3 separate regions of the Homo sapiens genome follow, and regions 2 and 3 are each linked to region 1. The links come from fine-mapping of genetic effects on gene expression. A gene starts in region 1. Each other region holds a variant in brackets. All regions are shown on one strand. Distances are between the middles of the regions.

Region 1 (2,680 bases):
GACAGAAGTGGACTAGAAGATTACATCTAAGGTCCCGTTTAGCTCACGATACAGGCCCTCCCAGAGGTGGGGGTGTGGGCAGGGTCATGTTCCAAGTTCTGCCTCCCTCGATGGACTGTGGGCTCCCAGAGGGCAGAGCTAGCTCTATTCTCATGATTAAGGACATCGAGAAGGAAGGGGTGACGCTCCTAGGAGATGATTTCCCACCCCTGTCCACAAGGAGGATTGGGGCAGCCTGGAGAGGCTCAGTGCCCGCAAGAATTAAGCAGAAGTTGGGACTGGACTGTAAACTGATGCTGTCGCACATGCTTTGGTTCCTGTCCCAAGCCTCCCAGGTTGCTCCGGGTGACTCTGGCCCAGCTTCTGGCTATCCATGAACACAAGTAGTCCCAGGGAGTCATTCTGGCAGAACCCAGGTCTGCTAGCTAAGAACTCCTGAACCATCCGCAATCTCTGCCTGTGGCCTGGACTTGGTGTATGGCCGGCAGGGTGGAAGGAGAACCCACAGGGCCTCTGAAGACAGGCAGGTGGCACACCTGCGGCTGGGAGGATTTGGAAAAGGAGTCCAGCGCCATTCATTTTTCATTCATTTTCCAGCCCAACGTTTGACCTGAATGCTTCACGCTCACACTGCACACACTACTCCATTTATAATACAACTCGAGAAGGGCACATACTACTCCATCCACAGCTCAGTGAAGGGATGCATACTACTCTACTCACAATTCAACGAAGTGGTGCATCTGCCTCTAATTTACTAGCTACCCTGGGGACCTTGGACACGTTGCGTGTCTGGAAATACTGCAGGTGATGTGTGTGGAGTAGGCTGCAGGCTCACCGTCCTGCAAATACTAGCTGTACCACCACCGGCTTTAAAGTCCAACAGACCTCTGGCCCAAGTCAAGTAGCAGAGGATCCAGGGCTTGGGTGGCCCACAAATAGGATTCTTCTCCAAAACGAGGCGCATAATGGCCTTTGTCTCCTCGACAGAAAAGGGAAGGTAGACTGGCTTCCTCTATGGGCGACCTTCGCGACTCTGGAGAAAAAGACCTCATCATTCTCAGACTTGGGAAGGAAGACTAAGCCCGGAAAGGTGGGGACAAGTCCGCTCCAACGCCGCAATGGGGAGTAGTAGGGACCCAGCAACCCGGTGCCGGGAGCCCTGCACCCTGGGAGGGAGAGGCGGTCGCTGAGGCAGGAAGAGGAGGAGGAGAGAGAGGAGGGACGCACCGGGTCAGCTCGCGATCCTGCTGCGCAGGGCGGGGCTCGGGCCGGTCCGCCCGCGCGCAGGTGAGTGAGCCAGGGCGGAGCGCAGCTGCGCCGGGCTTGGGCGCCTGGGGCCGCCGCTCCCCACCGTCGTTTTCCCCACCGAGGCCGAGGCGTCCCGGAGTCATGGCCGGCCTGAACTGCGGGGTCTCTATCGCACTGCTAGGGGTTCTGCTGCTGGGTGCGGCGCGCCTGCCGCGCGGGGCAGGTGAGTGCCGGGCTTTGGAGGCGGATGGCGTGGAGTGGTGAGCTAGCCAGCCAGCGGACGCCCGGCGGAGATGCGGCCGAGGGACGCAGGGTGCGGAGGGTGCGGAGGGTGCGGAGAGAGGGCGGGGACGGCGTAGTCAAAATGCGCGGGTGGCTCCGGGACCCCCGGACTGTTCGGTTCCTGCGCGCGCCGCGTCGGGCGCGTGGGCCTTGCCCTCCTGGAGTCAACCTTGCCCTCGGCACGTGAGAGTGTCCCCGATCGGGGAGCCTCCCGGTCCGGGAGGATGAGCCCGGTGCTGGCCGAGAAGGCGGGAAAAGGAGCTCCCGGTAGCCGATCCCAGGCGACATGTCCAAGGTGGCGCGCCGTGCGCCCCAGGGTCTTTGCCGGGATTCTTGAAAGCACCCAGGCAGGGTGTGGGAAGAGATCTTTCCTCTCCAGGCTCGCCCTCTACCTCCTCGCCTGGTCCAGAGAGAAGGTGCAAAAAAAGTGCTTTCACGTCCGCATTTCCCACTAGATCCCCTTTTTCCCGTCCGCACGCTGCATTCCCCCTCTCCTAAAGTTGAAGAGCGTTGGTGCAAAAATGAAAGCGCCCGGATTTCTTTTAGGGGGTCCCAGAGAAAGCCGCCAGGCATCTGCGCCACCGCAGAGACTGGACATTCCCGCGCCCCTCGCACTTTTTGGCAGTGGACTTTGAGGGCAGGAGGCTGTTGTTCCGGGGATATGTGTGAATTTCGAGTTGTTTCGGTTGGGGGAAGGGACCAACACGTCCCAGTGACCTGTGCCAGCCAGGAAATGCCCTGTGGGCCCTGGATGTATTAGAACGTAGTAAATAACCTGGTTTCTTCATGTAAGAACTTGATGTGAGGCTAGTACAGGTTTCGCGAGATTAGTACAGGTTTTGTGTTTTTTAAATAGAGCTCTCCAGGAAGCCATGTGGGTTTGATTCCCCTTGCTGCATCTAGGGTGGATTTGTGTTTGGCAGGTGTAAATTAGATAAAGGAATAAAAGGACGCAAGTGAGGTTGAATTTGGGCGTCCCGGTGACTGCCGTCTTTACAAATACAAGACAGGAGCTTCTAAAATATCAATATAAGCTCCAGGAATACTTCCTGGTTCATTCTCCAACATCAGGTGACATATTGCTGCATAGTAGATAGAAAATTTAAAACTTCATTTAAACCATGGCATGGATTTATAAATATATATA
Region 2 (2,680 bases), 26 kb after region 1:
TCCTCAGCCTCAGAAGATTCTAAATGGCCACACTGCTTGAAGACCAAGCATTTGAGCAAATAAAACTTCTGCCCCTGAGAATATATTCTCTCTCAAGCTATTAATTAAAAGATGCATAGTCCCTTGTTCTTGCCAGGATTTATTAGCCGAAAGTAAAATATGGGAATGGTAGTATGTCTATGAGAAATTAAATGCGGTGAAGACAAGCACACAGGGACTAATAGTTTTATATGGAGTTGTTTTGGGGCTTAAAACGTTTTGTCTCCTCGTGGGGATCAGGCACTGCCTTGGTCGTGGGGCTACCACTAAAAAATACGGGCAAGTTCCTGCTGCCTCCTGTAGGAGCTCACGGACATCAAGCGCAGGGTTCAGGAGGACTGAAGTGGTGGGGGGAGGGGAGCACTTTAGGTGGGCTGGTCAGGGAAGGCCACTCTGAAAATGTGACCTTTGTGCTGAGACCGGAATGACAACAAGGAGCCAGCTTTTTCTAGAGAAAGCACTTTTGGTGTCAGGACCAGCATGTGCAAAGGCCCTGAGGTGGGAAAGAGGTTGGTGTGTTCAAGAAAGAAGGCAAGACTGGCCTGAACACAGTGACTAAGGTGGAGAGGGTTACACGCAGAAGCCAGAAAGACAAGAAGTTTTGCCCCAAAAATGGAAATCTAAGCACTCTTGCAGTCATAAAACTGGCCATGGCAGTGCCCTGGTGCCCAGAGAGATATGTCATTTCTGAGCAGTAGTTGGGAATTCTTCCAGTTACAAAGTCGCTTCCTACTTACTCAGGTAATAGTCATAGACTCAGAGCTGGCAGGGAGTGTAGAGTTATTCTAGCCCCACCCCTTCATTTTACAATGAAGGAACAGAGGCCCAAAGAGGGTAAAGTTCATACCTGAAAAACCATTCTAAGTGAGGTCAAAAGGCAAACGATAAACTGGGGAAAATATTTACAGTTCATATAAGGTTGGGAGATCAATTTCCATACTATGTAAGGAGCAGCTGGCCAGTGGGGTTGGAGCAGAGTGTAGAATGGAGAGAGAG[GC/C]ACAAGAAAAGGGTGACAGAAATCCAAATGTGTGATCACATACAGCTGCTGAGCTGTGGGAATACAGCATGCTCACTCATGGCAGCTGGCAGAAGTACATCCAGTCTTGTGCAGGCTAGCAGTTATGGTAAAATTATAGCACATGGCTCGTCCAACACTGAAGAGGACTCAGATGTCATTCAGCAGGTGCATGGATAAATAAATCATGGCCTATTCTGTCAATGGAATAGTACTCAGCAATAAAAAGGAGGAAACTACTGACCCATGCAGCAGCGTGGGTGAATCTCACAAGCATGCTGAGCAGAAGCAGCCAGCTACAAAAGAGAAAGTACTATAGGCTTCCATTTGCATGAAGGTCCAGAGCAGGACAAACTCATTGACAGTTTTCTAGGACTTGGAGTGGAGGTTGACTGCAGAGGGGCACTGAGGGAACTTTTGAGGGTGAGGAAAATATTTGTATATCCTGATTGTGGTGGTCACATGAGTGTATACATTTGTCAAAACTCTCAAAATGAGTGAGTCCTTTTTAATGTGTGTAAATTACTGTCAATAAGGTTGATTTTTTAAAAATAAATTTTTACAAGGAGGGAAAAAAGAATAGATGGGAAACAAAAGCTTCTGATTAGATTGCTATTCATTCACTAACTGTTTATCAAGCACCATTTGTGTGCCAGCACGATAACAGATCCCGACCAGCTGTTTGTACCAGAACATGGTGCTACATGAACTGTGAGCCCCTAGGCTCCCTCCACAGGATTTACCTACAGACGATCTTCCCATCATCTGCTGTTCCCAGGCCATCAGCTGCCCGGAGACTCATAATCAGAATCCAAGATAGGGCAGGGGCAGTGTCAGCTAAGGAGAAAGTGGCTCTCCCTTCTTGGTCTAAGAGCACTTAATCAATCAAGCAAAGCAAATGGGAAGGAGATTGGGCTTGTTTGTGAACCAGAGCCCTACTCTGACATTTGTACAATTCTGTTTAATAACCAACCCCCACCTCACTTGCTTGATACTGTTTGCTCAGGTGTTTTTTCTAAACCCCAATCTGAGATAATAGCATTGTTTTGCTCTAACTTTCCAAATTCATTGATATAATATGATTATATCTAATTTCTGCAAATGTTTTTCTAGCCCCCACTACCATACGTACATACATATGTATGTATGTACGTACGTGTGTATGTGTGTATGTGCTGGGCATATAAAGCACCCAGGGCAAGGGACAGCAGCTCTTTGCAGATAAATGTGTCTCCCTATGATGGATGGTTTCTGTGTGTAGACTTTGTTCTACTGTCATGTTGAGAAAAGGTGTGGTGGTTACTCTGGTTGTTATTTAATACTGCTCAGATGGGATATCTAACAGCATACTGCTCAAGACATCTAGAATGTGGTATAGTGTTTTCAATTTGTAGAAAAATTAATAATCCAAACAAGAAACACATGTCAGTGACCAGCTGGCAGCATCCTGGTTCTTTTTCATTGCTAAGGTCGGAACTGTCATTTTGCACCACCCTTCTTCTCAGAAAAGGAGGGAAGGAACAAAGTTGTCATAGAGGACATCCTCTCTGAACCAGATTGGGGTCGGGGACCACAGCAGTTTGCAGACCTAAATCATCCTGCTTACTTCATTTTCCTTCCTTCCTT
Region 3 (2,680 bases), 32 kb after region 1:
TGGGAGAATCACTCAAACCCAGGAGGCAGAGGTTGCAGTGAGCCGAGATTGTGCCATTGCACTCTAGCCTGGATGACAGAGTGAGAATTTGTCTTAAAAAAATTTAAAAAAAAAAGAAATACTAAGTATTTTTAAAGTGTAAATTCTCCCCTATATTAATTTATCAATTTAAGTCAATTATAATTAAAATTTTAATGAAGCTTTTACAGAGTTAAAGAGAACGTTGATATATTTAAGAACGCAGTGGAATGGTGTGTTGCTACTAAGAGAATGAAGTAAGTTTGTGTATTTGACATAGAAAGATGCCCAAAATAGTTTTGTTCCATTAAAAACAATGCAGCTTATAGTAGGACAATAGTTTATATAGTTTGATGCTACTCTATTAAATACACACATGTGCACATGCACACTTACATACATGCACACAAACATGCACACACAATCATACAGAACCCAAAGTCTGGAGGGATAAACTCCAAAACTCCAAAATTCTAACTTTATACTACTCTATAGGGGATGGCAGAGGGGAACAGGTGACATTTTCTTCTTTCTACTTTTCTGTACTTCCCCGCCCCACCCCACCCCACCCCCACCTTTTTTTTTTCTGTCACCCAGGCTGGAGTGCAGTGGTGACCACAGCTCACTGTAGCCTCAAACCTCCTGGGCTCAGGTGATCCTCCCACCTCAGCCTCTGGGGTAGCTGGGCACACACCACCACACCCACTTGTCTTTTTGTTTGTTTTTAAAACGACTGTACATTACTTTTATAATCAGTTAAACCAATAAAGTGACTTCCACTTTGAAAAAGGAAAAATGTAACAAGTGACACATTTCACAAGTCAAGCCTTTGAATGCATTCAGTCTCTCAATCCTAGGATGCCCACATGGCTTACTATGTAGTAAAAACCCATGCTCACAACTTTTGAAAATGATATGAAAATATCAATTTCTAAAATAATAAATCTAGACACTGAATCAGGTCCAGTGGTCCACCTGCCCTTCATTGCCTTTTCTGAACAATCATTCTGAAATCAGCATCAGATAAAATTTGATGTCTCCATTCTCATCTCTTCTTGAATAGTTCCATGAGAACTAATGAAAGTTGGCTGAGCATGGTGGCTCATGCCTGTAATCCCAGCACTCTGGGAGGCTGAGGCAGATGGATCACCTGAGGTCAGGAGTTCAAGACCAGCCTGGTCAACATAGTGAAACCCCTACTAAAAATACAAAA[G/A]AAATTACCCAGGCATGGCAGCACACACCTATAGTCCCAGCTACTTGGGAGGCTGAGGCAGAAGGATCACCTGAACCTGGGAGACAGGTTGCAGTGAGCCAAGATGGTGCCACTGCATTCCAGCTTGGGTGACAGAGCAAGACTGCATCTCCAAAAAGAAAAAAAAAAAAAAGAGAGTTAATGAAATTAGAAATCTGCTGGGGAAAATGAGTTTATGAATCACTTCAGAAATAATACTTCTCCATCCTCTGGACAGGAATCATTTTAGTTATTTAAAATGTTTTCACTGGACAGAGTACAGGAGAAGATTCCGAGGCATGCCAATCATTTTGACTACTCTTACCTGTGTGTTCATCCTAAAAAACAAAGCTCTTAGCATCAAATGAAAAATTGCTTTCATAACCTGACTCTCACAGTGTCACATGGCTGCTGACAGAGCTGAGGCTGGGAGATGGGGCTTTTTGACTCCAGATTTTACTATAGAATTAAATCAGAATCCCTGGGATGGTCCAGGCATGTGTAGTTTTTAAACGGCCTGCAGGTGAGTTGTAGGTAGAACCAGAGCTAAGAGTCACTGCCTTACTAGAGTTAAATGTTTCCACAAGAGTACAGAACCTAGCCAGAGCCAACTGATGTTGCCCTGGGCACACTGGAGGTGTGCGTGGAAAATCACTTGAGGTCTGCTTTTGAAAGAAAGAGGTGGCTTGATATAAACATTGAAGTTTCCATGAGCTCCTAAAATAGGAACTACCTTTACTAACACGCAAAGTCTAATTTTAGTCACGTTAGTCACCATGTTATCTAACCCTGTGTTATTGGTTAGACAGCATAGCGCATTGGCAAGAAAGGGCTGACCAAACACAGCCTGAGCTTTCGTCCTGGGATCTGGAATTGCCGTGTACTTGCTGCAAGTGCCAGCCCAAGTCACCTGGATCCACAGCTGCTTTGCAAAAATTAGAGGTCTGGCTTGGATGACCTCAGAGATCCAAGACTGATCTGAAATTCTCCATAATTCTATTTTGAGTGGACAATACTTTCAAATACCCCAATAGAACAGCAGTAAAGATTCACAAATTATTATTATGGAGGCCAGAGTCTATCACACCTTTCAGATGCCCCCTGCTCAAAACAACAAAACCTTAATGTTACATTGCCTACTTTCTGTTTCGTCCCCTCACTTTCCTCTTGTTTTCTCTTTGATAATATTTCTTGCTTTGTTTTAAAAGGCTTAGGAAACAAATATATCAAAGGATGTTATTAGCTGTTAGCCTTAAAAAAAGAAATTCAACTGCAGTGGTTATAAAATATCAGCATTAAGGCAGTGCAAGAAGAGAAATGGCGCCGCCAGATTCCAGCTGTCCAGGGGAGTTGCACGTTCAGAGTATATTTGCTATGTTGATGAATGTGTTGATGGGGAAACCAGTTTTAAAGGATGGATCTTGGCACTGT

What was found. PIP is the estimated chance that this variant, and not a neighbour inherited with it, causes the effect. A credible set is the group of variants that fine-mapping cannot tell apart.
Region 2: its variant is the best candidate, but not a certain one, in a credible set for the expression of CDCP1 in esophagus muscle (GTEx, PIP 0.56).
Region 3: its variant is the best candidate, but not a certain one, in a credible set for the expression of CDCP1 in esophagus mucosa (GTEx, PIP 0.83).

What each region holds. Positions count from the first base shown.
Region 1 is chr3:45,145,000-45,147,679 of GRCh38, reverse strand. CDCP1 (CUB domain containing protein 1) reads left to right here and starts at 1,302. Exons shown (of 9, transcript NM_022842.5): 1 at 1,302-1,474. The coding sequence starts at 1,393.
Region 2 is chr3:45,118,625-45,121,304 of GRCh38, reverse strand. All of the region lies in intron 1 of CDCP1 (CUB domain containing protein 1), which reads left to right. Among named protein-coding and RNA genes, the nearest start is that of CDCP1, 26 kb to the left of the region's middle. The variant GC/C (reference allele first, on the strand shown) is at 1,036.
Region 3 is chr3:45,113,137-45,115,816 of GRCh38, reverse strand. All of the region lies in intron 2 of CDCP1 (CUB domain containing protein 1), which reads left to right. Among named protein-coding and RNA genes, the nearest start is that of CDCP1, 32 kb to the left of the region's middle. The variant G/A (reference allele first, on the strand shown) is at 1,232.